Homo sapiens: one gene and its partners. The protein of the gene in region 3 purifies or fractionates together with the protein of the main gene of each other region. This does not show direct contact. Each region holds a gene or a part of one and is shown on either strand. Other genes may lie near its edges. The genes, in order: ASS1, PSMG2, CA10 and TSC22D1.

What was found.
Region 1: the proteins of CA10 (region 3) and ASS1 purify together in Homo sapiens (affinity purification with mass spectrometry; 4 studies listed by BioGRID and IntAct, with this or other methods). This does not show direct contact.
Region 2: the proteins of CA10 (region 3) and PSMG2 purify together in Homo sapiens (affinity purification with mass spectrometry; 4 studies listed by BioGRID and IntAct, with this or other methods). This does not show direct contact.
Region 4: the proteins of CA10 (region 3) and TSC22D1 purify together in Homo sapiens (affinity purification with mass spectrometry; 4 studies listed by BioGRID and IntAct, with this or other methods). This does not show direct contact.

The regions. Positions count from the first base shown.
Region 1 is NC_000009.12:130,447,666-130,455,388, reverse strand, and holds part of ASS1 (argininosuccinate synthase), read right to left. Parts: intron 5,534-7,723; exon of another isoform or gene 5,434-5,533; intron 5,118-5,433; exon of another isoform or gene 5,056-5,117; intron 3,166-5,055; 5' UTR 3,161-3,165; coding exon 3,056-3,160; intron 1,085-3,055; coding exon 1,016-1,084; intron 1-1,015. UniProt on the Homo sapiens protein: One of the enzymes of the urea cycle, the metabolic pathway transforming neurotoxic amonia produced by protein catabolism into inocuous urea in the liver of ureotelic animals.
Region 2 is NC_000018.10:12,706,042-12,713,764, reverse strand, and holds part of PSMG2 (proteasome assembly chaperone 2), read right to left. Parts: intron 7,216-7,723; coding exon 7,044-7,215; intron 1,064-7,043; coding exon 1,005-1,063; intron 1-1,004. UniProt on the Homo sapiens protein: Chaperone protein which promotes assembly of the 20S proteasome as part of a heterodimer with PSMG1.
Region 3 is NC_000017.11:51,742,221-51,749,943, forward strand, and holds part of CA10 (carbonic anhydrase-related protein 10 precursor), read right to left. Parts: intron 5,599-7,723; coding exon 5,413-5,598; intron 1-5,412. UniProt on the Homo sapiens protein: Does not have a catalytic activity.
Region 4 is NC_000013.11:44,565,883-44,573,605, reverse strand, and holds part of TSC22D1 (TSC22 domain family protein 1), read left to right. Parts: coding exon 1-443; intron 444-7,723. UniProt on the Homo sapiens protein: Transcriptional repressor. Acts on the C-type natriuretic peptide (CNP) promoter. Acts to promote CASP3-mediated apoptosis.

The DNA of each region.
Region 1 (7,723 bases), on a different chromosome or scaffold from region 3:
TGAATGGCTGGCTGTCTGGATGAATGGATGGATAGACAGTGGAGGGATTAATGACAGATGGATATGTGGATGGATGGATGGATAATGAAGGGATGGATGGGTGAATGGATAATGGGATGGATGGATAGATGATGGATGGATGAATGGATGGATGAATAGACGGATGGATGATGGATGGATGCATGGGTAGATGATGGATGGATGAATGGATGATGCATGGAAGGATGAAGAATGATGGATGGATGGATGGATGATGGATGAATAAATGGATGATGGATGGATAGACGGATGATGGCTGGATGAATGGATGATGGGTGAATGGATGGATGGATGGATGATGGATGAATGGATGGATGATGGATGGATGGATGATGGGTGAATGGATGGATGGATGATGGATGAATGGACGGAGGATGGATGGATAGATGGATAGATGGATGATGGATGGATGGATGAATGGATGGATGGATAATGGATGGGTGGATGAGTGGATGGGTGATGGATGGATGGGTGGATGGATGATGGATGAATGGATGAATGGATGGATGGATGGATGATGGGTGAATGGATGGGTGGGTGATGGATGGATGGATGGATGGATGATGGGTGAATGGATGGGTGGGTGATGGATGGATGGATGGCTGAATGGATGGATGGATGGATCGATGGATAGCTAATGGAGGGATGAATGATGGATGGATATGTGGACGAGTAGATAAACAGAGATAAAAGAGGGTGAGTGGGTGCATAGATGGACAGAGAGATAAAAGAGAAGGGAAGGTATGTGGGTGGGGAAGAGACACTCCACCTGGATGGGAAGGTGGGTGGGTGGAAGAGGGCGTGGGGGAGGCAGAAAAACAAGAGGGTTCACACACCTGAGAGCAGGATGATCTCATACTCTTAGAAGCAAGAAGACACACTGGAAGGGATGGGATCCCTGGGGCAGGAGCATCCACCACTGCCCTCCACATCACCGCCCCACTCCCAGCCCAAATCCCTGCCTCCCGCCTGGTACCTTTTTGGCCCCAAGCTTCAGTGCCTTCTTCCTGGCTTCCTCGAAGTCTTCCTTCTGGCCAATGTTGGCCTGAGAAGCAGAAGCGGAGAGGCTCCGTCAGCCCCTGGGGGGAGCCCTGAGTTCACACCATCCGCATGCAGCAGCCTCCCACCCCCTGCTACAGAGACAGCTTCCATTCCATGGCCAAGTCACAGTAAGAAGGAAAAAGGACAAAGCCCAAGGCCTGGAGAGGTGAGATTCTTCCAGGAGGTGAGATTGGGAGCTGGATTGTAGCGTGGTGATGGCTGGTGGCTTCCATGGGTTGGAGCATTGGCTGAGCCTGGCCCTGGCCACACAGGCTGCTGGGAGACAACCATCTGCTGTCATTGCTGGAAGGTCTAGGGTTCTCCTGAAACTCATCTGTCTTTTCCAGAAAACTCTTTCTCAGCCAGTGCAAAGATTAGCTTGTCAGGGCCTTCCTAGCCTCCAGCTCTCCTCCCTAGTCAAAGGCCATGCCTTGGCCATCCTGAGGCAGCTGAGAGGCGGGAGGCAGAGAAGCCCGTGCTCAGGAACTTCCAGCTCCGTCCCTGTGGCCAGTGCCCTGACCTCGGGGTCTGACAGCCCCTGTCTAGACACTGCCATGTTTCCTGCTGCCTGGACTCTGGCCTGCTGCCCAGATCCTGGCCTCAGCCCTCACTCCCTTCATTCGGCTCACCAGACCCTGGAATCTTGCCAAAGCCCAGCTGCAGGTGCTTATCTGAATCACATTCAGCTTTTAAATCCCCCAGGTGGTAGCCCAGGGGTCTATACGCCCAGCTCCAGCTCTGATTGCCCCGCTGTGCTACCTACAGTGAGATGGATACACCCTGGGCTCTTTGCAGCCCCTCAAAGCTGTGCTCTCACCCACCAGGTGACTGTGAGCAAAGTATTTCTTCCCCTGGGCCTCACTTTCCCCAACCTGAATGACAAGGGCATTGGGCGCAGTTAGACATGCCAATATGCCGGCAAACAAGCCACTTTTGGCAAGAGCTAAGTTTTGTCTGTCCAGAGACCCAGGCTCACTTCCTCTGGAAACAGAACCTTCTTTCCTGGGTGGACCCCATTCCACAGGGATGGAGAGGAAGAAATCCCGCCCACTGAAGGAGTAGGCTCATGGCCCAAGCCTCGCACCCCATGATGCAGCCATAGGGACTAATGCGTGGTGGGTCCCCATGGGCCCTACTGGGGGTAAGCCCTCCTTTTTGGGAAAGGTGGGCTATGAGGGTGACCATGAGCCTTGCCTGCCCTGTGGAGAGGCCAAGAATGAAGCCAAGTAGAGTTGGAGATAGATCTTAGAAGCACCTGGATCCAGCCCTGCCTGAAGCCATCCTACCCCTGGAGTTCTCAGTTGTGTGAGCCAAGAATTGTCTTTTCCCTTTCCTTTTTGCGTAAGTTGGTTTGAGTTCAGTTTCTAAAATTTGCACCTAAGAGTCCTGAACAGCACAGCCACACAGAGAAGGACTCAGAGCTGTGGCCAGGTTCAGTCGAAGAGGAGCTAGTTTGAGAGGGATGACTCCTATGGGCCCTGGATGAGGAAGTGGCTTCACACATAACCCATCACCTGTGACCTATTTCCCATCCCAGAACCAGGTGATCCCCCAGGGTCCTTCCAGCTCAGGATTCCACAATCTTTGCTGAATTACTGCAGGCTGACAGCATACTCTGGAGATGGGAAGACTGTGTGCCTTCCCAGGGCTGGCAGCAGGTCCCAGCCCATGCCTCTCTGCAAGCAGGCTAAGCCAGCAGCACTGCCAAGTTCACTTCTGTGCCCTCCCCGCGCCTCCATCACCTGGCTCTGGAAGGCATCTCAAGGATGGCCAATTTGCAGATGGAGAAAGTGAGGCAGTACAACGAGAAGCTATTTTCCTAGTTCCAGTTCAAGACAGGCTTCGAGAGAAGAGGCCAGGCTTGAATGAGTGACGGTGAGCAGACAGGCTGACAACCCAGACAGAGGCTGGCAGGGGGCAGACAGGACAGGTTGCAGGACACGCAGGAAGACAGACACCCAGGTCGCTCCCTCACCAGATAGGCAATGACGTCATAGCCTTGTTCCTTCAGCCACACGAGGATGCACGAGGTGTCCAGGCCGCCACTGTAGGCCAGAACCACGGAGCCTTTGCTGGACATAGCGTCTGGCGGGAGTCGAGGAACAACCTGAGTGACCCTGAGACAGCCAGTGCCCCCCGCCAGCCCCTGCAGACAGCCCAGCCCCGACCTTGGCCTTGGACAGCCTTGTCTCCTGGGCAAGCTGCCACTGAAGGTCGGGAACAGGATGTTCACCTTCAGTGCCTGCCACCCCCGGGAACCCTGACCTCGCACACTCTGCACACAGCCCCACAGACCACACTGGGGCCTGGGAATGCTGACTGCAGTCCTAGGCTGGTCGGGGAGAGGCATCTCTTGGACCTGATCCTCCAGCATCGAGGGAAGGCGGCTGAGGCTGAGCAGTTTGGCCCAAGGCCAGGATGTGAGGAATGCACGCAGGCAGGAGATGTGGGAGGGGCCTTGGCTCTGAGCCTCTGGCAGCTGACACATCCCCCATCAGAACTGCTCCTTGCCAAGCACCAGGCAGGGCCCTGGGAGCCTCAGCGGGATCTCCCTGTGCCCCTGAGCCCCCACTACAACCTCATGAAGTAGGAGTTGTCATTCCTATTGGGGAGGCAGCCAGCAGGGCTCAGAGAGGTCAGTGGCAGGCTCAAGGTCACAGAGGGCACAAGAATCTGTGCTTCCCCAGCACGCAGTGCCGCCGCCCACCTGCAGGTGGAGAAGGATGCTGTGGGGCAGGGGCCCAGCCCCAGTCCCTCTCCTACCTGCAACCCCATGGAACCTTCACTGGCTGGAATTTTAGACATCGTGTCTCCAAATGTGAGCGCCTCTGAATTCAACTCTGCCAATGCCCAGTTTGGAGGGGCTCAGAGACCAACTTCCCCCAGTGTGGAGGTAGAGAAACTGAGGCCCAGGGAGGGAAGGCGATAGACAGGCAGAGGCCTAAGACCTCTGCAACCAGCGGCCCTTCCCGGGGGGACAGATGGGCACGAGGGCTCTCTGCAGCCAGGCCCTCTGCAGCCGGGAAGTGCCTGCGGTCTCCCATCCTGCCCCACCCTCCGTCACAATGAAGCCTCCCGAAGGCGCCAAGGCCTCCTGTCTCCTGATCTTTGCAGCCATGCTTCTTCCCCGAGGGCTCTCCCTGAATCCTGGGCTGCCCTTGGGCTCGCCCTGCACCCCCCTCCCCCACATGCCTCCTGTGGCCCTGGGCTTGGGCGTCTTCACTGTGTCCAATTTGCTGAACAGGAAACCAGGGTTAGGGAGACGAGGTCACCTGCCCAGGGTCATCGGATCAACAAGCAGCAGGGGCAGATGTGGGCCCAGGCCTCCTGGTTCCAGCCTCCGTGGACACCTGGCCCCAGCATCCCGCATTTCCCAAATGTACAGGGCATGTTTGTTCTGCCTGGGAACGTTTCCACTGGAGTCTGACCAACGTCACAAGGTCAGAGTCACCCAGGGTCTTTATTAGACACTACTGGGGAAGTGGAGCCCAGAAGGGTCACCCGGCCATCACCATTGCAGTGATGCAGGCATCGCTATCCTGAGCACTCTCTGTGTGCCTGGAAGCTCGGGGAGAGGAAGTGCCTTTCCCAGGCCTCCCGTCCTCTGCTGCAGAGCCTGGCCGTGTAGCCAGGTGGACTTTGGAGCTCCGTCACATGAGAATTCAGTCCCGTGCATGCTGCACGGTCCCACCTGCCAGTCAGCCGGGGCTCACAGGCCTGTGCTGCCCTTTGGACTTAGAAGGGGAAACACCTCATGGACCATGCAGCTGGGGCAGAGAAGATGGTTCTGGTCGGTGCCCACAACGTCCCTACTGGGCATTCAACCCCCTGCCCCTGAGTTGCTGGTGACTCAGCCAGCCCTAACCCTGGAGCCAGCAGGTGGTATCCATGGCAACTGCAGCCAGGCAATTGGCCATGCAGGATGGAGGGAAGGAGGGAGGAAGGCAGGCAGGGAGGACTTAAGGTGGGCAGTACCTGGGATTGGAGGCGTGAGTTCCCGGCGTCTGGAATCTGTTTTCACAGTGCAGTGAACCACTCTGCAAAAGCAGAGCTACTCAGCTGCCTGCAGGTAGCCTGGGCCATCCCAGAGGCCCTAAACCTTACTTTCCAGCCGCCCAATCTCCTGTGAGCAGCCTCACTGAGCAGAGGAGGTCCAGGAGCCCCAGAGCCACCTGTCCTGCCTCCTGCCTCCTGCCCCCTGCTCCAGAAGGCATTCAGGAAATATGTGGAAGCCTACCCCTGTTTGCGTGTGATGGCGCGGGTGGTGTGGTTGGGTTGCGGGAAATTCTGTTGTATGTTTTAAAACAGCTCTATTGAGGTCTACTTGACATATCATAAATTGCATTTTTTAAATATCAGATGGGTAATGTGCCAACATCATAACAAAGTTTGAGGGTGGCACCTCACACACACACGAGAATACCCAATCAGCACATTCATCAACTACAAAAATAATCGCATATTTTTTTGTGTCCAATTTAGCAAGTTTCGGCGTGCGGATGCGCCCGTGACATCAACACCACAATCAAGGGAATAGACATGTCCGTCTTAGGCTAAGCCCTTCCATCTGGGGTTCTCTTCATTTTAGAGTCAGGAAAACTGAGGCTTGGGCTGAGGAACTTGCCCTGCATCTCGTTTGACTGGTAGGCAGCAGAGCCAGGACTCCAACTCAGATCAGCTCGGCTCCTTAACCCCCTGCTCATAGGTACAAGACCACCACTGGAGACTCAAGGAAGGGAAGTCCTGGGCAAGTGTGATCTGATGATGCTGGCCCAAGATTCACCCAGCTCTGAGAGTCACCCCTGCTCCTGCCTCCTCCCAGAGGCACCTGGAGCCAAGAGAGGCAGCTCCACAGAAACACGGAGGGGCAGCTCCACAGAAACAGCTGGATCACCTGCATCGCCTCAGTGACCCGCCATGCCTCCTGCCCATCAGAGCTGTATCCTTTTTTTTTTTTTTTTTTTTTCAGACAGGGTCTCATTCTGTCACCTAGGCTGGAGTGCAGTGATGCAATCTCAGCTCACCACAGCCTCCACCTCTTGGGCTCAAGGGATCCTCCCATCCCAGCTCAGTGCCACCACCCCCAAGTAGCTGGGACTACAGGCACATGCCACCACACCTGCCTAATTTTTGTATTTTTTGTAGAGATGGGGTTTCACTACATTGCCCAGGCTGGACTCGAACTCCTGGACTTAAGCGATCTGCCTGCCTCAGCCTCTCAAAGTGCTGGGATTCCAGGCATGGGCCACTACATCCGGCCATCATGCTGTATTCTAACTGCCCTCTCCCCCACTATGAGCTCCATGGAAACAGGGACCATCTCCCAGATGCCTGTGGCAGGCACTTAGAACAATGCTACTAGTTCCACTCTCTGGAGGTCAGCTCCTCACCGCAAAAAGAGGGCTGGGGTGCCCTGAAGCTGTGGAGTCCTACACATGCTCTCATGGCCGAGCACAGTGGTTCATGCCTGTAATCCCAGCACTTTGGACGGCCGAGGTGGGTGGATCACTTGAGGTCAGGAGTTCCAGACCAGCCTGGCCAACGTGGCAAAACCCCGTCTCTACTAAAAATACAAAAATTAGCTGAGTGTGGCGGCACACACCTGTAGTCCCAGCTACTTGGGAGGCTGAGGCACGAGAATCGCTTGAACCTGGGAGGTAAAGGTTGCAGTGAGCCAAGATCGTGCCACCACACTCCAGCCTGGGTGACAGAGTGAAACTCTGTCTTAAATAAACCAAAAGAAACCAGTGAGCCCCTCCTGCCTGCCAGGTTGTAGCTGGGCAGGTGTGGGCTCTGAGGCCTTCAGCCTCTGGGGCTGGGCAGTGTGAAGCAATGCATGGACCTGGCGTGTGTACCTGAGACAGTGTGTGTGTGTGTGTGTGTGTGCGCGCGCACACACCTGTGTGCACCCAGGGGTGCGTACCTGAGAGTACACAATGTGTGTGCATGCATGTGTGTGATGTGTTTGGGCTTGCACATGTGTGCCTGTGTGCATGCACACGTGTGTGGGTGTTGGGGCCAGTGTATGCATGCAGAGAAATGAGCTGGGCAGATGGGCTTGGGAAAATGATGCAATCAGACAGCAGCGTTGCTCCTGCCCTCCCAGCAGCGGGTGGGGCACCCCCCTCCCTCAGCCTCCGCAGGTCCCTAAGCTGCATTTGCAGCCCGAGGCAAAAACTAAATGAAACTGAGGGTTTGATGTCGGGGGAGGAAGTGACAGGGAGAGAAGGAACCACAGCTGCAATCCAGTGAGCGCTCACTCCAGGCACAGGACAGAGGTCAAGTCCACCAGACATGGGTTTGAGTGGCTTCAGCTCTCTAGCATAACTGCTCAGCTGCAAAATAGGGGTGCAAACAGCCTGCTCCCCACAGGGCGACTGTAAGGATTGGGTGAGATGCTGGGGGAAGGAGCCCAGAGCTGGGCACCAAGCATGTATGTGCCCACTAAGCTCTGTGCACCGCTGCTATGGCTGACCTCAGCCAAGTTCCTGGCTTGCTAAGCCTCAATTTCCTCATCTGTACAACCTGACAGCCCTCTGGGTTCTGACCCTCCCAGACATTGGGCTTTCTTCCTGGGAGCTGCGCCTGGCAGGCAGATCCTGGCTGAATTCAGCCTCCCCTAGTCCCAGCTCCACCCCCACCA
Region 2 (7,723 bases), on a different chromosome or scaffold from region 3:
AGAAATTATTGAGTTTGCAGGGTAGCAGATAAGAAACTACTTGGTAAAATACTGAAACTTCCTCCCCTTATGGGATAAAAGAACTGGCTGAAATTGGTTGGAACCAATATGGCCAAGTAGAGTCTGCAGAGAACAAGCTTCCTGGTGTCGCAAGCTGACTCTCCATCACGTTTCATACTCATTCCCCTGAATTGGCACATGAGCCCTATGAGTTAGCATGAGGAGATAACTGTGCATGCCCAAGGACCTTCCAGATGTCCCCTTTCCTTCCATCGCTCACCTACTGATCTCAGAATCCACCCTCTGAACCTTTTCTAATAAAAACACTGCCTTGAAGTCAGCACAGGGAGGCAGATTTGAGGTCGACTCCTGTCTCCTTGGGAGTCAATTTGCAATATAAAGCCTTTCTTGTCTCAAAAACCTGGTGTCACAGTGCATCAGGAAGCGAGCCCCTTTTCCTGGATCACAATTTTGAGTGAGAGGAGAAGCCACTGGAGGGTTTCAAAGAGAGTAGTGATGTGGTGTACGTTTAGAGGATCATCAGTGCTGCTGTTTGTGGGAGGCAGATCAGCAAGTTAGTCAGGGGCATGAAGATGACACTGGTTTGCACTCAATGACAGCAGTGGAGGAGGAAAGAAGTCGGATTCAGAATATTTTATGACATATACATAATTTGATATATACATAGTTTATATGTAGATGCCACCAGCTGAAAGGTAATACAAATGGAATAAACCTCTAATATTAATATGCTTACATTTTTTCACCAATGCTACCCGAACTGAAAATATGTTAACACTCAAGATAAAAGCCCTGCTTCCTTTCTATATAATCATGAAAAGACAGTAACACATCTGAAATATTGTAAGATTATTTCTCTGTAGAATCAGATCTTAACTGTACATATGGTAAAAACAGTAGTAATTTTTGAATCTTAATCCCTAATGTTACTTATTTTCTCATTACACTTTAATAAACAAAAAGGCAAACTACAACATACTAACCTTAATAAAAATGGATCTTAACTGTAGAGCCACCAGCTTTCTTGAAGGCAATGAATACACTATAAAAACAAGAAGAAAATGAAATCATATGACAGTGAAGTTATACAAGTTGAAATTATTATGATAAACAAAAATTGAATTATAATACCTTTTGCATTTAAATGTTTTCAATAATTAAAATACGGAACATATATGACATCTGGTTAAAATAAGACCTTTTAGAAGTACCTTAAAATAAGCCAGTGGGCTTTATTCTATGGAACAGATTCATTTCTGAAAAGTTAACTGTAAGAAAATATAAAAAATTATTTTTCTTTTGACTTTAACTGCAAAACCAGAGAAGTATTCCCCTGAAAATTTCTGGTATTATGACAAATAAAATCATCCTTAAGAAAACTGAACTTTTTGGCTTTTGATATTCTCCCCTCTTTGTCTCCAGAGAACAGCAACACTCATTGGGATTAACAGAAAAAACAGTAAAAGGTAGGAGAATGTTAGCCATGTAATAAAATCCTGAAATAGGTACATGTGTGTTCCTTAGAACTTTTTAAAGGATCTGAAATAACATAAAATGTCATGTGAGTCAATGTGTTTGTATTTTTTACTGGGAAAAGGATCCATAGCTTTCATCAGGTTCTACAAGGGGCACACTCTAGAAATGCTTAAGGCTTCCCTGCCCAACTTCATTTCTAAGAATGAGAAGCAGCTGGGCATGGTGGCTCACGCCTGTAATCCCAGCACCTTGGGAGGCTGAGGCAGGTGGATCACAAGGTCAGGAGATCAAGATCATCCTAGCTAACATGGTGAATGAAACCCCGTCTCTACTAAAAAATAAAAAAATTAGCCAGGCTTGGCGGCGGGCACCTGTAGTCCTAGCTACTCAGGAGGCTGAGGCAGGAGAACGGCGTGAACCCGGGGGGCGGAGCTTGCAGTGAGCAGAGATCGCGCCACTGCACTCCAGCTTGGGCAACAGAACAAGACTCCATCTCAAAAAAAAAAAAAAAAAAAAAGAATGAGAAGCTCCTGAGTCAGGGATAAAATACTCTCTAAGGACACAGGATTACTACTGTGCTAAGGGGTAAGTGTTGGTTACCATAAACAGATTGCAAATAACAGCAAATCCTTTGGTGGATCAGGTCTCTACTGTTACAGGTCTTTCGGAAATTGTCTCCTATGGCTGGCGTGATGTGGTGTGACTGGGGGGTATGCTGAACTCAGCAAATCTAGCAAGCACCAGGTATGTTCAGTCCAAAGGAAGTTTAGGAATTAGGGAAAAGGGTATAAATTTAGGGAAAAGAGACTAAGGCAAAGATTACTCAGCCTCTAACCTATCTGTGACAAACACATGTAGTCCAATTCAACTGACCTAGGTTTGAAAAGAATGTATCTGTAGGGGGTGGACAGGCTAAGCTTTTTAAAATGTAAGCTACCACTTCTTCGGTGATAGCAATACTCTCCTCATCAGCGTATCATACAATTCTTTTTTTTTGAGACAGAGTCTCGCTCTGTCACCCAGGCTGAAGTGCAGTGGTGCGATATCGGCTCACTCCAACTTCTGCCTCCCAGGTTCAAGTGATTCTTGTGTGTCAGCCTCTCAAGTAGCTGGGATTACAGGAGCACACCACCACGCCTGGCTAATTTTTGTTTTTTGTTTGTTTTTTAAGACAGAGTCTTGCTCTATCACCCAGACTGGAGTACAATGGTGTGATCTCGGGTCACTGCAACCTCTACCTCCTGGGTTCAAGCGATTCTCCTGTCTCAGCCTCCTGAGTAGCTGGGATTTCAGATGCACACCGTCACAACGGGTTAATTTTTTGTATTTTAGTAGAGACAGAGTTTCATCATGTTACCCAGGCTGGTCTCGAACTCCTGAGCTCAGGCAATCCACCCGTCTTGGCCTCCCAAAGCGCTAGGATTACTAGCATGGGCCACCGTGCCCGGCCTATGCAATTCTTTTTGTTGTTAGGTTCCTGTTTCCTAGTACTTTTTTCTTCTGATGTGATACATTACGAAAGCAACAACACCTTTTCTGTATTCTGCCCCAAAACATTAACCTTTTATCTAATCAAGCCTTTAGAGCTAACTCCAGTTACAGAAAACACAGGGGCTAGAACAACAAGCCAAGTGACAAGAGGACGTAATCAGACAAATCAGAAGGTGGGACATTGTACAAAACAATACACCTAGTCTTTTCTTCAATAAATCGGTTTGTGATGAAAAAAAAGGGACTGCTCTAGAGTAAAAGAGATTTCAAGGGCACAGCACAACAATCGGATATATGAGGGGTCTTCAAAAAGTTCACAGGAAATGTGTACTTACGAAAACATTTTGCACCAAAATAAACTTGTACTGACTTGCTGTAACACGCCTGAAAAGGATCTGGTTTGAGGCACTAAGAAGGATAAGGCATTAAGTGCCCCTATCACAGCAACATGAATTCTGCTTAAACTGAAGCAAGAACATCAAATTTATGGTGAAGCTTGGGTAGATAAATGGTGAAATCACAGATGCTTTAAAAGGGGCGGGCGTGGTGGCTCACACCTGTAATCCCAGCACTTTGGGAAGCTGAGGCGGGCAGATCATGAGGTCAGCAGATGGAGACCATCCTGGCTAACACAGTGAAACCCCGTCTTACTAAAAATACAAAAAAAGTAGCCGGGCGTGATGGCGGGTGTCTGTAGTCCCAGCTACTTGGGAGGCTGAGGCGGAAGAATGGCGTGAACCCGGGAGGCAGAGCTTGCAGTGAGCCGAGATCGTGCCACCGCACTCCAGACTGGGCGACAGAGCAAGACTCCATCTCAAAAAAAAAAAAAAAAGTTTATGAGGGCTGGGCGTGGTGGCTCATACCTGTAATTCCGGCACTTTGGGAGGCTGAGGCGGGTGAACTGCCTGAGGTCAGGAGTTCAAGACCCACCTGGCCAACATGGTGAAACCCTGTCTCTACTAAAAATACAAAAATTAGGCCAGGCGTGGTGGCTCACGCCTGTAATCCCAGCACTCTGGAAGGCCAAGGTGGTTGGATCACCTGAGGTCAGGAGTTCAACACCAGCCTGACTTGCATGGTGAAACCTCATCTCTACTAAAAATACAAAATATTAGCTGGGCGTGGGGGCGTGGACCTGTAATCCCAACTACTCCAGAGGCTGAGGCAAGAGAATTGCTTGAACCCGGGAGGTGGAGGTTGCAGTGAACCAAAATCGTGGCATTGCACTACAGCCTGGGCAACAAGAGCAAAACTCTCTGTCAAAAAAAAAAAAAAATACAAGAATTAGCTGGGTGTGTGGTGAGTGCCTACAATCCCAGCTTCTTGGGAGGCTGAGGCAGGAGCATCTCTTGAACCCAGGAGGCAGAGGTTGCAGTGAGCCGAGATCCCGCCACCACACTCCAGCCTGTGTGACGGAGTGAGACTCCATCTCAAATCGGGCGCGGTGGCTCACGCCTGTAATCCCAGCACTTTGGAGGCTGAGGCAGGCAGATCACGAGGTCAGGAGATTGAGACCATCCTGGCTAACATGGTGCAACCCCGTCTCTACTAAAAATACAAAAAATCAGCCGGGCGTGGTGGCATGTGCCTGTAATCCTAGCTACTCAGGAGGCTGAGGCAGGAGAATCGCTTGAACCCGGGAGGCAGAGGTTGCAATGGGCCGAGATCGTGCCACTGCACTCCAGCCTGGGCAACAGGGCGAGACTGTCTCAAAAAACACCCAAAATAAATAAATAAAATAAAATAAAATAAAGTTTACGGGGGCCGGGCGCAGTTGCTCCTCACACCTGTAATCCCAGCACTTTGGGAGGACGAGGCAGGCGGATCATCTGAGATCAGGAGTTTGAGACCAGCCTGGCCAACATGGCGAAACCCCATCTTTACTAAAAACACAAAAACAAAAAGTAGTCGGGTGTGGTGGTGGGCACCTGTAATCCCAGCTACTCGGGAGGCTGAGGCAGGAGAATCGCTTGAACCCGGGAGGCAGAGGTGGCAGTGAGCCGAGATTGTGCCATTGCACTCCAGCCTGGGCAACAAGAACAAAACTCTGTCTCAAAAAAAAAAAAAAAAAAAAAAGAACGTTGTAAAGATTAAATGAATTACATGTAAACGCCGCTGGGCGCAGCGGCTTGTGCCTGTAATCCCAGCACTTTAGGAGGCCAAGACAGGCAGATCACCTGATTTTGGGAGTTCAAGACCAGCCTGACCAACATGGAGAAACTCCGTCTCTACTAAAAATACAAAACTAGCTGGGTGTGGTGGCACATGCCTGTAATCCCAGCTACTCGGGAGGCTGAGGCAGGAGAACTGCCTGAAACTGGAAGGCGGAGGCTGCGGTGAGCTGAGATCGCGCCACTGCACTCCAGCCCGGGCAACAAGAGCAAAACTCCATCTCATTAAAAAAAAAAAAGTACATGGCATTTAGCTCATAGTAATACTCAATAAAAGATAGCTGTTATCACTAGTGGAAAGTATACAAATTCTAGGGGCTTTTGTTTTTTAAGACAGGGTCTCACTTTGTCACCCGGGCTGGAGTGCAGTGGCATCATCATGGTTCACTGTAGCCACAACCTCCCAGGCTCAAACAGTCCTCCCAAGTTAGTTAGCCTCCTAAGAGGTTGGGACTACAGGTTGGCTAATTTTTTTCTTTTTCTTTTTGTAAAGATGGGGTCTCATTTTGTTGCCCAGGCTGGTCTCAAACTCCTGAGCTCAAGCGTTCCTCCTACCTCAGCCTCTCAAAGTGTTGGGATTACAGATGTGCACCAACGCACCCGGTCATGAATTCTGGTTTTAACCATTTATAGTCCTTTATCCTCTGAGGCAGTAACTCAAATTTAGTCTTGCGTTGACAAAGCCATCTGTCCTGTAGGAAGTTCAATAATAAGGTCATTTCTCAAATGTACATTTCACTATCGCAAGCTAAAAACAATGATATGGTTAGTAAGACACAAAAACCAAAATGCTTCTTCATTTGTCTTTCAATTCACCAAAGGCCTTTCATGCTCTTCTGTCACCTCTGGATTTGACCTTAAAATGGTAAACAGAAGACTGAAAGATCACCAGAACAGTTAGCCATCAAAGGTAGTAACTGGGTGCTCCCATGCTTCATGATCAACAGGAGCTCTTCTCTTACTCACCTGGTGCTGTGCTGCATTATAACCAGTGTTCCCTGATTAATCAAGCCTGATAGTCCAATGAGGAATTACAAAGATTTACAGTATGGGAAAAGCCTACACCTATTAGTGGCATCAGGCAAGTCAATCTCTTTGAGCCTTATCTATACCATATTATTATGGATCCTATAATGGAAGAAGATGACTACGAGGATAAGACTTAGTTGACGTAACATATATTAAACCTACAAGACTGAGTCCAGCGCAATCTACTTTTCGCCTTTCCATATTATTAGTGATGGTTACACATACCAGTAAGAACAGGAGATAAAACTGAGGATAGAAGGAAAAAAATCCATGTTGAAAAACAAGGAAATTTAAAAATTCTAGAAAAGATACAAGTATGGGCTGGGCACGGTGGCTCACACCTGTAATCCCAGCACTTTGGAAGGCTGAGGCGGTTGGATCACGAAGTCAGAATATTGAGACCATCCTGGCTAACACAGTGAAACCCCCGTCTCTACTAAAAAAATACAAAAAATTAGCCAGGTGCGGTGGCAGGCACCTGTAGTCCCAGCTACTCGGGAGGCTGAGGTAGGAGAATGGCGTGAACCCGGGAGGCGGAGCTTGCAGTGAGCGGAGATCGCGTCACTGCACTCCAGCCTGGGCAAGAGAGCGAGACTCCGTCTCAAAAATAATAAAAAAAAAAAAGATACAAGTATGATCTTATTCTCAACCTTCGTAAGACTTGCCATTTACAAGAGGCTAACAACAACTAAAACCAGGACATAAAAGAATAGGACAATGTGATTGGGTTGTGAACTCTACACAAAGTTGGCACTAAGTAAACATTTGCTACAAAACAATTATCAATAAAGTCTATTTCTAATTTAAAACAACTCTACTTTGTAGTGGAAAAATACAAGGTAAAGTCTTACATACCTTCAGCATTTATGCTAAGTTCTGTTGAATTTCCTTCTGTGGTCGCATATGGATTGTTTCCAACCATTGGCACAAGACAATCGGTATAGAAGTAACCAATCTTAGACATATTCAGTGTAGAAATAATCAGATCCATTGCAAGCTGGCCAACATTTCCAACAGATACTGCTGGCTGAAATTATAAAAGATATGTTCAGTAAGTCACCAAAATTAGCAGCACTTTATTTTATTTTTTGAAACAGAGTCTGCCTCTGTCTCCCAGGCTGGAGTACAGTGGCGTGATCTTGGCTCACTGCAGCCTCTGCCTCCTGGCTTGAAGCAATTCTCCTGCCTCAGCCTCCTGAGTAGCTGAGATTATAGGCGCGCACCACCACACCCAGCTAATTTTTGTATTTTTAGTAGAGACGGAGTTTCACCATGTTGGCCAGGCTGGTCTCAAACTCCTGACCTCAGGTGATCCACCGACCTCAGGTGATCCACCCGCCTCAGCCTCCCAAAGTGCTGGGATTACAGGCGTGAGCCAACACGCCTGGCCCACAGCACTTCAAAAAGTTTAGACAGAATACAATAGTTATATTAGTACTGAAAGCATCATAACATCATAGCTAGATATTGATTTTCATTAACTACAACTGCTGGGGCCTCCTCCACCTTTGAGACTATTTAACAAATACTTATTG
Region 3 (7,723 bases):
GCTTCACCATGGCATATAAGTAGCACTTCCATATGTATTGTCCATGTACCTGTCCTTATACATCCCAATCCTCATTTCCTCTCAATCTCCAATTGTGTCAATGGAGCATCTCTACCAGGAGGTCGTGGCAGAGCAGCAAAGTGCTAATTACATTGCCTGAGCACTCCTCACAAGCCATTCATTGCCTAATGGGGCCCTGGCTCTCAAGGATGTTCTCCTCAGCACTTTTCATACCCTAGCACACTTCAGGACAATTTGATGTTAGTTGCTTATTCCTACAAATTTGTGTTGCTTTAGTGAAACCAGCCTCTCAAGGATGCAAATAATTGATTCCTGGAAGAGGACAAGGCCTGCATTTTCTGTTGTTTTGTTTCAGTTGTTGGTTCTGAGATAATTGTTTTCTCTTTTCTGATTCAGAGCCACTGAGAGAGAGAGAGAAAGCAAGAGAGAAAGCCCCATATTTTACATATGACTTTAATTCTCCCCTTTTAATGAAACACATCCTATCTATATCACCATAGCAACAGCTATGGACTTTTCCCTCTCTCAGATGTGTTTTGAGCAGGATCAGAGATTCCAGAGGCTGAGAGCTAGCAAGGTCAAGGTGTTTCTATCTTGCTGTCAGAGGGAGCAGCAAGTGGGTCAGGTTGCACAGCTGCTCACCCATTCTTTGCTTAATGCTATCTAGTGAGAGCTATTTCATAATCCCCTTCTGGAATAAGCTTCAAATATAATCCACATTATGTGGTATTATCAATATACATCCCTCAATAGACTTTACACATCTGTGGGCAGAAGCTGCACTCTGGCCCATGCCTAGCTCGGAGCCCACCACATGGCAGAAGCACAAGAGCATGTGAAGAGTGGATGAAATTAACAGGAGGAACTGGCTATAGATCTTGCATGAAGTGGCTGGTACAATTCTCCGTGTACCCTTCTGCCCCCTTGAAAAGAAGAACTTAAGGAAGGATTTTTAAATGAACTTGTCTAATGTATCCCAAATCAGGAAGATTCTTCTTGTCCAGCCCCCACTACTGCAATGGAATCTAAGGCATGTTTCTTTTCAAATATTATTTTTTCCCTGGCTAATGTATTTTCTTCTTTTCATAAATATCCTACTTTATACTGGACATTAATCTAACCATTTAGACATGATTAGCAAGCTAAGGGTCTTACTTATTAAAAACAGTTCATTTTTCCTTCTTAAAGAAATGGAGACATTTGAATCCCTGAATGTGCTCATTTATCACCAATCCCCAACAAGGAATCCAGGAGTTCTCTGTGTAGGACATGAGTAATTTTTATAAAAATGCAGTTGCTGACTATGTCATACATCCATGCAGCTTTATAAAACAAAGCAAATGATTACCATCAATTACAATAACCTCACTAGACAAGACTGCAATTAATCTATAGCTCTTCAGATAACGACTGTTGCACTGTGCCAAGGAAAATGCCTGGCATTAATTGACTTATCACGATCAGCAGTGATAGATAGGGCAGATGGCAATGTGATCATTCACTGTCAACAAAATAAACACATGCTTTCTTGCTAGAAGTGTCTACTTGGGTCCTCTCAAAGGATAGCCAAAAATAGAGGCCAAAGGTGGCTTTGAAGGTAGCACAAAATAAAAATTAAGTTAACCAGATTCGCGCAATCTACCCACATAACAAACCTGCATGTGTACACTTTAATCTATAATAAAAGTTGAAATTCATTTTTTAAAAAGTTAACCTTCAGGGTGAGATATGTTGACTTTTACTGAGGCTAATCCTCAGTAGAATACAATTGAAGGAAATTTCTATAAGAAAATCATGGATTGGTGCAGTGGCTCACGCCTGTAATCTCAGCACTTCGGGAGGCCGAGGTGGGCAGATCACTTGAGGTCAGGAATTCAAGACCAGCCTGGCCAACATAGTGAAACCTCACCTGTACTGAAAAAAATTAGCCAGGTGTGGTGGTGCACACCTGTAATCCCAGCTACTAGAGAGGCTGAGGTAGGAGAATCGCTTGAACCCAGGAGGTGGAGGTTGCAGTGAACCGAGATCATGGCACTGCACTTCAGCCTGGGTGACACAGCGAGACTCCATCTCAAAAAAAAAAAAAAAATTATGGATTGTATAGAATTTCAGCATCAGAAGATACATTAAAACTGACAGTTTCCCCTGCTCATTCGAATGTGAGTCACCTTTATGGAGTCACCAAATTCTGTTCAGTGCTTAATAACTCCAGTAATGGGGCTGAGTGCAGTGGATCACACCTATAATCCTAGCACTTTGTGGGGGGGCCAAGACAAAAGAATTGATTGAGCCCAGGAGTTAGAGGTTACAGTGAACTGTGATGGTGCTACCACTGTACTTCAGCCTGGGTAACAGAGTAAGACCCTTTCTCTCTAAATAAATAAATAAATAAATAAAATAATTCCAGTAATATGAAGTCACAATTTTCAGAGGCAAACTCATTTCATCACTGTATCGTTTTCATCGTTAGAACACATATGCAGCTGAATTCCATCTTTTTGTAGCTACCACCCATTGGCCATAGGTGTCTTCCCTTATGCTACACAGAAGATGCCAAACTCTTCTTGCTTGCTGAAATCCGTAAATGGGATCTCAAAAGTCAACTGCTTATCGCACTACTTTGCATATAGCATTGTTTCGGGGACTCTGAAATTCTGGTCTCTTGCACCTAAACCCATACCAGTTCGTCTATAGACCCCTGACATTGAGAGGCTTGGAAAGAAATGTGATACGATGACTGCATCTACCCAGGGCAAGGTAGATTATACCTATGCTGAGGCCAGTGCTCAAGCCTACATTGGAGCAGTGGATGTGTGTGTGTGACCACCCTACTTGGGAAGCTGTTCTCCAAGTCTCATTAGTCTAGATAGCATCCCAGCCTTGCCATTTCCAGGGGACAATTACCAATGTGTGTGCCTTCCCCCCTTTTTAGCAGTGTGATTTTGTTGATTAAGTCCCCTTTGTTTAGAAAACTGGGATAATTCAGGCGGAGTTTCACCTAAAATTGTCACAGTGGTCGCTAACCAAAATCTCTTGGGGAAAGTTTTACAAATGTACAAACCTGGATCCTATATCCTGAGACTGATTCAGTTGGTTTTGGGAAGGACTGAGAGGAAAATATTTTGACAAGGCTTCCCAGTTCATTGTGATTTGCAACCCTGCTTACATGCTTTCTTCACTCATTGCTTTCTTCACTGGGAACACATAATAATGTACCATTGTGGAAGTGCTTCACAAACCTAATCGTCAGACTCTCCTGGGAACTTTTAAAATGCAAATTCTTTGGTGCACCTGATACCTGTGGTCTGGTGTAGGTCTAGGAAAATTCATACACTAAGAGATCAAATTACTATATGTTTCCCTTAAGGATTTTGGAAGCACTCATTTACTCTAAAATTGTGGTTCACGTATAAGTTACAAAGCACCCTTATCATATACTGAAGAAACAAGTGTCACTAAAGAATAATACAATGTAAAGATTTTAGCCTAGTAAACATCTACATTTTATCAATTATTCATTTAACAAATATTTCTACTCTGAAGCAGTGTTGTGATAGGTGCTGGAATATGACAGAATATGGGGGAGAAAAAGAAATAACAGCAAACAAAAAAATGAGCAAGTAAGTCAACAGATAAAATAATTACAAACCTTAAAATAACTTAAGAGGAAGAATTCATCTAATTTTGAATATTCTCTAATTCAGACCGGCAGTACCCAGTTATGCTCAAATTGTGACTTTCTGTCCTGCTTTCATTACATTTCTTGTTGTACTCTAGTTCAGAATCTGCAACTTGGGAGCCTGGCATTACAATGCCTTTGGCAGACATCCCTAATCAATCCTAGTATTTTTTTTCCCTACAGATCCAGGAGGGAGACCCATACTACAGCTCAACCCTATTGTTTATAGAGTCATGATTAACAGATCACAGATAAAATGCTAGATGAAATCATGCAGCTTCTCTAGCACACACTGCCCTGACATGCCTCGGGGCTTTTGCTCGCACTAGCCCTCATTTCCTGCTTTGTCATTGTTGTTTATCAATCATTGAGTACTTTCAGTGTTTTTACATCTGGAATCCCACTTAATTTTTAAAATGGAGGTGTCTAAACTGTGCCTTAGAAGGCTCAAGTAACATCCCAAGATCACACAGTGTGTATCAAAGCAAGACTACAAAACTCAGGTCACTGGACTCCAAAGCTGATGGTCTTAAAATTGTTCATCATTGCCTCTCTTTACAGCCCAGTTCAAGGGGCACCTTCTCTGTGAAGCTTCTCCTGACCCCTTCAAGCAAAATTTACCACTTCTTCCTTTGAGTTTGCCAGGGCCTTTGTACATCCCCATTACAGCATGACATTATACTTTAATGACTTGAATGTAGCACTCTTTGAGCTCCTCTGTGGTAGGAGCCCTTTTTTTAAATCTCTGTATCCCTGGTAACTAGCTGAGTGCCTAGGCAGGCTCTTAGTGACACATTTTGGATGCACATTAAAATCTGGCTGCTGGACTCATTAAGATTGTGGGTCTGTTTCTTAGTGCTTGGCCTTAACACACTAAAAATAAGGCCAGATTTATACATGATCTTTAAAAAAATAAAAACACCACATGCAATACATATTTTTGTAATTTCAAAGCCTTCCTAACATCAGTTATTGAGGACTCTTAAGCAGAAACCTAGTCACAGGGCATTTAGCCTGTAAGGACCCCTGATCTCTAGTTCATAAACACCCTCCAGTATAACGGGGGTAAAACAGATCAAATTACCTACACCCTACTTGTGAAGTGTCACACCACAGATGACAACTGTTTAAACTGTAGCTCTTGTCCTATAAATGAAACTGTGGTTGGGCTCTCTGCTGTGGCCTGAGTTCTGTCTGGGTTGATGGTGGCACACAGTGACGTTTCCATTTTGCAGAAACTCAGGAAAACTATTGAGTTGCCTGACACTTATTTCACAGTATGTTATAGTTTTATGCAAATATGACTCATTATATTCAAAAGAAAAGTTATGGAATCTGTGCTATCATATGTGACACGTGAGAGGCTGATCGCCCAGATAGGTGTAAGTAAAGATGTATTATATATATAAGGTGAGGATTTGGGGTTGAAATAATGCTCTAGAAATATCACTGGACATGAGTCTCAAGAGAGCTGCAACATTGTCTCAGAAGGAAAGAGCTAGTTTCATTGTAGCCTTCCCTGGAAAATACTAGAAGCTTGTTATTGACTTCGATGTCAATTTGCAAAAGACAGATGGAGAAAGAAGGCATGGGCCTTCTCATTTCATAGATTAGAGCGAATCCCTTTGTTATGTTATCCCATCTTGGACACAAACAGGCACCCAATCTTATAAGTTGACATTTAACCTTAGTACTTTGACAGACTAACATACCTCCCCAGAGAAGGCCTGTCCATTGAGGAGGTGCTCCGACCCTTGGCTGTCCTCACTCCCAAAGTGTAGTCGGATCTCCTCCAGCCGGTGGCTGTATGTCATGGGCCCTCCAGATATGTTGACCAAGTGCTCCTTGTCCAGGCGAAGGGATACGTGTCTTCCAGTGTTGTACATGGTCCCACTGACCTGCAAGGCAATTAGCAACAGGTCAAGCAAGGCCCTCCTTCTTCTATGCCTCCCCAAACCCAGCATGGTGCTTGGATCAACACCTTTTGCTTCCTCTTGATGGGAAGATGGGCTAAATCCACATGTGGAGTAGGGCGTGGCAGCTGCCCCAGAGGGTATATGTGGGATCTATGGTAATTTCTGTGAGGCATAAACCACATGATGGCTTAGGAATTTGAGGTAAGAACTTGAAGGAGACTTTTCATCATTTGTGATTAATATTTTGTGCATTGTATTTTATAAAAAATGAATTTGTCCTTCTTACTATAAGGATTTGGAATGGAAAGATACTGCAAGAGTTCTAAATCTCAGCTGTGAGAAATTGGAGAAAGCAGTTAGCAAGGGGTGAGATATTAAGAAGGCCAAATGAGACAGGGAAGAGAAAATGAGTGACTAGAAGCAGACGCTCATGGGAGATGGAAAGCCTAGGTCTGAATTCTCAAGCGTCCTATCTGGTGTGTCCTGCCCTGCAACCAGACATTGCACAGAATCCTCATAGCTTGTGGGCCTCAAGTGGTAAACTAAAGGGATTCACTCAAACTTCCAATTTCATAGATTCCTAGACTTACTCCTTATTCCTGATTCCATCTTGCTCCAGCCCCTTCAAACTGCTAACATGACTGCTTGGCATTCCTTTTCCTTCTTTTCTTGCTGGGACTTGATGTTCAGCTTCATTTTCCTGACTGTGACCTCAACAACAATTGATTCTAGAACACTCATTCCCATCTGAAACTCTACTTTCTTACTCTCTTGGGTTGACTTAGCTCTGGGAGTAGGATCTAGAGCTTAGGGAGACTTTGAATGAGTCTGGAAGGAGTGTTTCTGGGTTACAGGAGGCTGAACTATTTGGATTTTCTTCCTGCTTACTCTGACTTTGGGCCAAGCCTTCAGCCCTAGTGATTCCTGAAGGGCTTCCTGTACCTTCTGACACCTTCATTAGATGTGGTTTTCATATATGTGCTCTATAGCACTATCTTTTACCTGCCTCTTTTCCACCTTTCTGACACTGGTGTTGTGAATGATTAGCTCTTGAGTTGTTCACTGTGGCAGAGACCATAATGCTCACCAAATATTCCAGTGACTCATTTTGTTTCCTGCCACCTTACTGTAGAATGGAGCCCATGTGACTGATAGGGGCCATGGGTTGGGAGGGGTCATGACAAGTGTCACTTCCAGGTTGAAATAGTGGATTCCCCAGACTCACCTTTCCCTGGTACATCGACCAATGGCATTATATGGAAATGGCAATGTGGTGCAGCGACTGCATGGAGCTCATGTCAGCCTAGGCCCCTAGAGATTATGTGCAGTTTACAAAAATGACAGGAATTCTTCCCCTCCCTATAACTACACTCCCAACAATGTAATTTTGTAACTGCTGTCATCTAGATAAGAGGCTATTTCTCTACGTCGAGTCTGGGCTGGCCTTGTCACTTACTTTGGCCAACAGCATGTGCTGCACACAACATGCTAGTCCTGAGAGTAGACCTTGAGGGCATGCGTGTTTTCTTCACTTCTTCGTGGAGCCGTGAAACTACCATGCAAATGAGCCTGGGCTAGCCTGCTGGAGGATGGGGCCACAGTGAGGAGAGCCATCCCAGGAGAGGCCGTCTAGACGGGCTACTCTGTGGCTGATCCACTAGCTGACTGGCCCAGCTGAGATCAGCTTAGCCTGGCCCAGGTCAGAAATGTCCACTGACCCATAGGCTTGGAGCTAAATGATTATTTAAGTCTCTAAATTTTGGGGTGGTTTGTTATGCAGCAAAAGGGAACTGATAGACACTAAGTCAGTCATCTTCTTTCTCCTGTGAAATCTGGAACTATCAACAGAAACTCTCCGTTGAGTTCCTGAACTGCAAGGTCGCCTGAGTGCCAACCATACTGTTAAGCAGAGAAAGTCAGATCAGAGAGAGAGGACTGAGGCAGATGTCCCAACATTGACAGAGGAGACCACACACTGGGGAACGGGGGAGGGAATGGGGAGAATAACTACTTCGCTTCAGATATCTTTGTGTCTCTTCGTTCTAGTTCCTTCAAGAGGCCTGAACTGTACTTTCTAATATTCTACACCTTACCAATACATTTTTAA
Region 4 (7,723 bases), on a different chromosome or scaffold from region 3:
TTGCCCTCTGCTAGTAGTATTTCTGTTACAAGTCAGGTTAGTTCAACTGGTCCTTCTGGAATGCCTTCTGCCCCAACAAACTTGGTTCCACCACAAAATATAGCACAAACCCCTGCTACCCAAAATGGTAATTTGGTTCAAAGTGTTAGTCAACCTCCCTTGATAGCAACTAATACAAATTTGCCTTTGGCACAACAGATACCACTAAGTTCTACCCAGTTCTCCGCACAATCATTAGCTCAGGCAATTGGAAGCCAAATTGAAGATGCCAGGCGTGCAGCGGAGCCCTCCTTAGTTGGCTTACCTCAGACTATCAGTGGTGACAGTGGGGGAATGTCAGCAGTTTCAGATGGGAGTAGCAGCAGCCTAGCAGCCTCTGCTTCTCTTTTCCCGTTGAAGGTGCTACCGCTGACGACACCCCTGGTGGATGGCGAGGATGAGAGGTAAGATCATGTCATATTTCTGGAGACATTCAACAGATTTGAAGTTAATCTATTTAGTAGCTATATGTATGCACAAAATGACTCTAAAACATTGTATATTGTGTTTTGTATGTGAAAAATGCATTTTTATGGGAAGTTTTATAGAGCAAGAGTTATGGAATGGTTTCAGAGGGAGTAGGAAATAATAGTAATATGTAAACAATATTTTCAGAATAGTTGTTGAGCATGTGTTCACATTAAAAACAGGTTTGGGGGCGCCAAGTGGTTTTATTATCTCTAAAATGCTTTTTAGAAATATTATGGAAAGCTTAATTTTTGCTAACCCACATAATAGTTAATCTATTTTGAGCTGCTAAAATAATCTCTTGGGGGGTTGTGGTTCCCACGTTTGTTCTCCTTTACTAGACATCCCTTTTTCATTTCTACTGTGTTTGATCTTAGTCTGTGAAAGATATTGTTGCCTACTTTTCCTAGTCAGATATGGTAGGAAAGATGACTTAATCTGGGTTATATAGGTTGCCCTCATACTCCAACTGACCAACTTTTGCGTACTTATTTAATGGTCATTTTATCTGAACAGTAAAGGAATGGGAATCTTATTTTGTGGGAAAGGAGGACATAAACTATCAAAATAACCAGACTTATCTTGATAGTATGCTGAACATTTTTTCTTTTGCATGGTAGATCAAGGTGGTAGCCATTTTAAAGAACAGAGAAAGTAAGTCTTGGAGGATTGAATTTATAGAGGCGTGAAAATAAGACCTTGGTCTCTGGCTAATCTACTCCACCTGTTCCTTTCTTTCCTTACCAAAAAGATACAGAAAGCCTAAAGTACATTATTAAACCAAGCGTTTTTTCACGTAGATTGGAAATAATATGCCAGTAACGCTTATTGAATCAAATTGTGTCTTTGAAGCTGACTGGCTAAAAAAGTTGTGAAATCTTTCATGTTGATTTTTAAAGTAATGTTCTTTTCACAAATTTTCCAGTCTGTTACTAACCTTGATTAAAATGCTATTATAGGAGTTATGAAAAGACATCATTTTCACGGTGGAATTTGGAGTAAGCGTGCAAGATATTTAATTATTTTAGTATTAGTTGGAGGGTTTTGTGATTGAACTTTCATCAAGCGAATTTAAGCATTTATATTCTATATGTATGTTTGTGGGTTTTGCTTTGGAAAAATTGAGCATATTGCAAAATAGTTGTAATTTTAGAAAAAGAAAACAGGTCAAATGTTTCAGTGAGGTTTGTGTTATTTAGTTGTTTAAAAGGTAAGATAAAGACATGGTTAAATTGATAAAATCTTATCTTTCAAGATTTTTATTATTTTTCTAATAGTCAGGTAATTAAAACCTTGTTACCTAACCAAATGTATTCTGTATTATTTGTACAAAACTGTACTCTAAAAGATAAACTTTTAGGAGGTAGTTTCCTTAATTGTTCCATTATTATTGTTAAACCTTTAATTTTATCATGCTAATACTCAACTAATTTTAAAAGAATTACCACAAATATTAATGTTTTTTAAGTCAAAAGGTTATGATTTGAGTGAAGCCTCTATAAAAACAGCTATATTATGTGGATGCTAAGTTTAGAGAAACAAAAGACGGGTAAAATACACAAACAAAAACACTCATTTTGAATTCAAACTTGCCATGATTTTGTAATTGCCATTTGTGGTCTCCTGGCTTGACTTTCACCTCTTTTTCCTCCTATTGGTAGGACATGATAGGATTTTCCACAGCTTGCCCTTCCAGGCAATTAAAGTCAGATGATGCTACTTTCAACTAGAGTTTTAACTATAGGAATAGGGTCCCAGTTTAAGATATTAATATAAAATTAATTTTTCCAGATAATAATTGAGAAAAGGAATAATAAGGTGGAAATTATGGAATTCTAGAAAGGGACAAAAAGACATACTGAGAAATAAGGAAATATAGCTCTAATACAAGTTGTCTTCAGACACTGTACACATTCAATTATAATTATGTTTAGCAGTCTCTCCCACAAGACCAGGAGTTCCTCAAGAGCAGGGACTGTTTTGAATTTACTACCTATTTGGGCCTTGGTTAGTTAACATCAAAGTTTCGTGATTAAAAACCAGAAAATTTTTGTTTTAGCGGTATCTTAAATTCTGTGAAATCGGAATGTAGCCCTAAAACACCTTGTAAGATCAGAAAAGATATATATTATATTCTTTATTGTGTTTTACTGAAGATTATTTATCACTACAGTTTGGAAAAAAGTTAATTTTCATTTAAATTTGCCCTTGGAAGATAATTTAAGAATAACTACAAGAGAAAACAGTGATATGATTAAAAAACAAACTTTTAAAACCTTTCTTCCCATGGTAGCTTCTGTTGTCACTTGCATCTTCTGGGCTTGGTCACCATTAGTCTCAGGAGAGAGGGAATACATATATAATTTCAATATTATGAATCAGGAAATGTGTTAACAATATAATTTGGGCAGTAGGACAGATGAGGATGGTTATCTTTTAATCATCTTTTGAAATAATACTCTTAACACTTTAGATTATAAAATGTTTAGACATGTGGAAAGTGCCTTCAGTTGATCACTGGGAGAGACTATAAACATGGATCAGGATGCTAAGATTATGTATCTTGTTTTAAAAAAAATCATTCTTATTTAAAAGGTCTTAATGTCAGGCCGTGTGCGGTGGCTCACACCTGTAATCCCAGCACTTTGGGAGGCTGAGGTGGGCAGATTGCTTGAGCCCAGAAATTTGAGACCAGCCTGGGCAACATGGCAAAACCCTGTCTCTACAAAAAAATACAAAAATTAGCCAGGCATGGTGGCGCATGCCTGTAGTTCCAGCTACCTGGAAGGCTGAGGTGGTAGGATCCCCTGAGCCCTGGAGGTCAAGGCTGCAGTGAGCTGGGATCATGCCACTGCACTCCAGCCTGGGTGGCAGACCAGGACCCTGTCTCTAAAAAAAAAAAAAAAAAAAGTCTTAATGTCTTAGACTGTAACATGAACTGTGAATTCACCTTTACAAGAATGGGAAAATACAGGTATTGCATCTTTTATGTTTTGTGATTGTTATTAGCACAGCCTCTTAACGTGAAATGGGTCAAACTTCTATTCATCCTTCAAGACTCAGCTCAGATGTTCTCTTTAAAGCATTCTTTTCACTCAGGGGACATTGTTTCCTTAGCACTTTTTAATATTCCTCTATTTAAGCACTGTACACATTCAATTATAATTATGTTTACCAATCTTTCCCACAAGACTAGATGTTCCTCAAGGGCAGGGATGAATTATTTTTTTGAATTAATTAGCAGGCATTTCTCCTGATTTTTTTTTTGTCATGATTTAAAGTTTATATTGTCCCTCATCTTAAGCACAATTGTGAGAGATGCAGGATCATATAATTTATGCAACAAATGGAAAAGAACTGAATAAAAAGACTTGCTTTTTTGTATCTCTCATCAACATTTTTAGGTGAATTGATGTATGTCTGCAAAGTACATTGCCTGTTTTATAGTAGGTCCTCAAATATTTAAGACGCATGTGTGTTACCTATAAAATAGGAGTAATACTCATTTTGCCTGCTTCTCAGGATAGCAGTAGTATCAGTTAAAATACTTTGTTAACTAAAATACGAAATTATAATTTTTAAAGTTTTTTTTTCAAGATGTACATGCACAGTTTAAAGATAGTTTAAATGGTTTTCCAAGAAATAAATGGAAGAGCTTCCTGCACCCTTACTTTCCAGTTTTCCTTTCCTAGAAACAATCACTTTCACCTCTTTTAGATGATTATTGTGGTATTTACCTCCCAGTCTCTAAATAACTTGCTTGTCTTACCACTAGATATGTAATATAGCCTGCTCGTTAGGAGCATGGACTGTGGAGTTAGATTGCCTAGATTTGATCTTTCTTGTCATTTACTAGTTTTATGTAACATCGGGCTATTTATCCTCTTTATGGTTCAATCTTCTCATTAAAAAAATGATGACAATAGTAGTTACCTCATTGGGTTGATATAAGAATTAAATGAATTTGGAAATTCCCTAGAACTTTGTCTAACTCACATGCCCTATGTAGGTATTTGTTAAATAAAATACACCTTTCATTTCTTTTTGTCTGTATTAACTTCCTGGATAGAAAATGAAGATTTAATTTTGTTGTTACCATATACCTACCTGGTCTCCTTTTTTCCCAGTACCCTTCCTCCCAGTAGTTATCAATATTGATTATTCAGTATTCTTGTCAAATATTACTTTTCCTATCCTGTACAGTGTTTTGTGGCTGCTTCCCTGCTCCATCCCCACCTGTCTATTATAGAAATGGGTTTTCCTCCACTCCCAGGTTTTCATCTGTCAGCGCTGTCTGTTTTCTCCAAGTTGCCCCTCCTTTCCCCACCCTCTTCCCATTTTTGTATGTTTTGGGCTCTACCTTTCCTGTAGAACCTTTCCTTAGATGTCTGGTAAGTCTTGATTGTCTGCTTGCAAATAAGTGTTAAAGGATTAAAGAGCTGATTAGAGATTTGCAGTGTGGGGCTGGCCATGGTGGCTCACGCCTATAATTCCAGCACTTTGGGAGGCCAAGGTGAGAGGATTGCTTGAGGCCAGGAGTTTGAGATTAATTTGGGCAATATAGCAAGATCCTGTCTCTACTATATATATATAATTATTTTTAAAAATTCTTTTTCCGTGTGGCTTGTTGACTGTTAACTTTACCGCAGAGTAATCTGGCTGGAGTTCATTGTCTTTTTTTACCTCTTTGCCTAGTTTTCTCTATATTTATCACTAAATCCACTTTTCATCAGATGCCTCTTAGGATGTTCCAATATCAGATATTGTTAACAATTTTATCTTTCTCAGGAAGTGTTATATCCCACTGACCTCCATTCTTGACTGGTTGCCTTCTTGGCTTGGTACACAACTATTATTCTGGGATTCCTTTCACTTTGTCTTGTGTTGGATCTTTATTTTCCAGAGACTAGTGTCTTTATTCTTAGTTTGCTTGTTTTAAAATGGCTTTAGTTTACTCTGACACTTTCTTAGGTAAAGAATACCAGGTGGGGAAGTTATGTTCTCTTATATTTTGTGCCATTGCCTTCTAACATCCATATTGCTTTTGAGAAATCTGAAGCCATTCTGATATCTTATATATTGTATGTGACCTGTGTATTTTGTTTTTCCTTCCCTTCCTTTTCCTTCTTCCTTTTCTTCCTCTCATTTTTAAAACCTCTAAAACCTTTATAAGATTTTATGTTTCCAGTGTTCTGAAGTTTTGCCATGATGGATTTTTGTGTGGGTCTGTTTTCATTCACTGTGCTGAGTACTTGGTGAACCCTTTCAGTTTGGAAACATCTTTTCATTCTGGGACTTTTTCTTGAGTCAGGTTGTTGATTATGTCTTTCTATTTTTTCTCTCTTAAACTCCTCTTATTTGGATAACGGACCTTCTTGACTGGTCTTCTAATTTTCTTGTGTTTTCTCAACTACTTTTCATCTGTTTTTCTTTTTGCTCTATTGAGTTTCCATTTCCCTTATCACATATTTAAATTCCAAGAACTTTTTTTTTGCTCCTTTTTAATAGTATACTATTCTATTTTAATAATGATAGTATTTTTTCTTAGCTATCTGAATATATAAAATGTTAGCTTTTTTAAAAAGTTTTTTTTTTCTTTCTATGTGGTGTTTCCTCTAGGTTTTATTTTCTTACTTTTTATTTGCTTTGGTCTTTATCTTTCATCTTATAGCCTTTCCTCAGATAGTTGGTAGTCATGTGTAAGAGTAAGGAATTAAAATGCTAATTAGAAATTCTGAGCGTGGCTTGTCAATTGTTAGCTTTCCTGTATGGTAACCTGGCTGTGGTGTTTGGTTGGAGGACTTCTAGTGTCGGTTTCTTCTTGTATATCCTCCTAGCTGGTTAGATCCCTATAAGAAGGCTCTTCTGATTTCTTGCTTGGAATTGAAGGCCTTTCTACAAGCATTCTGTGGGGTGGGCAGTGAGGGGGATGTGGAATGAAAGGTTTTGGGGGATCCCCAGATACGTTTCTTCACTCAACCCTGTTTTCAGTATGTTCTGCATTTTGCTGTGCCTGATTTCCTTAGTCCTGTGATCCTATGTTTTACCTTCTTCAGACAATATTCCTTTTTTTTTCTTGGGATTAGGGAGGGACAGTTGGGAATCTGTAGGACTGGTTGCTTCTTAAACTGACTTCTAAACAATCTTTTTAATTTTAGCACCTTCTCCCCCCACATCCCACTTATATAGATGTGGTACTGCCAATTCCTGAGTCTTTTGGGGATTTTGCAGTTTAAATTGGGTTTGTTTTTGGCATTCTCCATTGTTTGCTAAAGCTTTGATTTTCTAGTGTTTGCTAAGTCATTTGTCACTCAACTGTCTGCTTTCCAGCTTTCAAATTTTTTTGCTATTGTCTTTTCATCTGCCTCAGTTTTTGTGGGCTTATGTCTTTGTATCTTAACAAATTGCTTTTCTGTCATTTTAGTGGGGTTTTAGGGAAGGAGTGAAAAAATAGATGTGTGTGTTTAGTATCATTACACATCTATTTCAATGGTAGAATACTGTACTATTAAATGTAATGAATGATGCTAATTTTAATTAAGTCATAGCTCCAAGTTAGTTCTCTAATGAATACATAAATTTTAAGAGTGGAATTACTTAGTTTATATTTGTTAGAAATAAGAATAGTATGTAATTCAGAATTTCAGTTCATAGAAGTGATGAAAAATGTTAGTATTAGATTCAGTTAATGTCTACCATATTTAACCACTCAGTAATCTTGTGAATTAAGTTTTTTTCTATTTTATTGGTGAATAAACTGAAACTTGCTGAGTATTTAGAGAGGGCAAGTTGTCTAAGGTTACATACATAGCAGTAAAGCAGAGCTAGGATTCAAGGCTGTTTTTCCAATTCGAAATCTAGTGCCGTTTTTACTTCTTATAAAGCTAATAAGAGGTAAGGCCAGTGCCCATAAGGAATTTTTAAGAGTGTCTGAAAACCTAAAAAATAGGCAGGCTTCATTGCTTTGTGTATTCGTATAACTGATGGAATTGCCATAGAACATAACATTTCCCTGCAAGTCCTTGGTGAGAAAAAAGTGGGTAAAGTCATCACAGTGGTGTGCCTGGAATGCATTAGACATTCAAATGTTAAATGTTAAGGTGGACATGTTTTATTTATTTATTTTTTCTTTTGAAACTTATGTGGAAATTTTAGGAAAACCATTTTAATTTTTTAATAATTTAGATCAGCTTTTGCAGCATTAGCTTCAGAAATA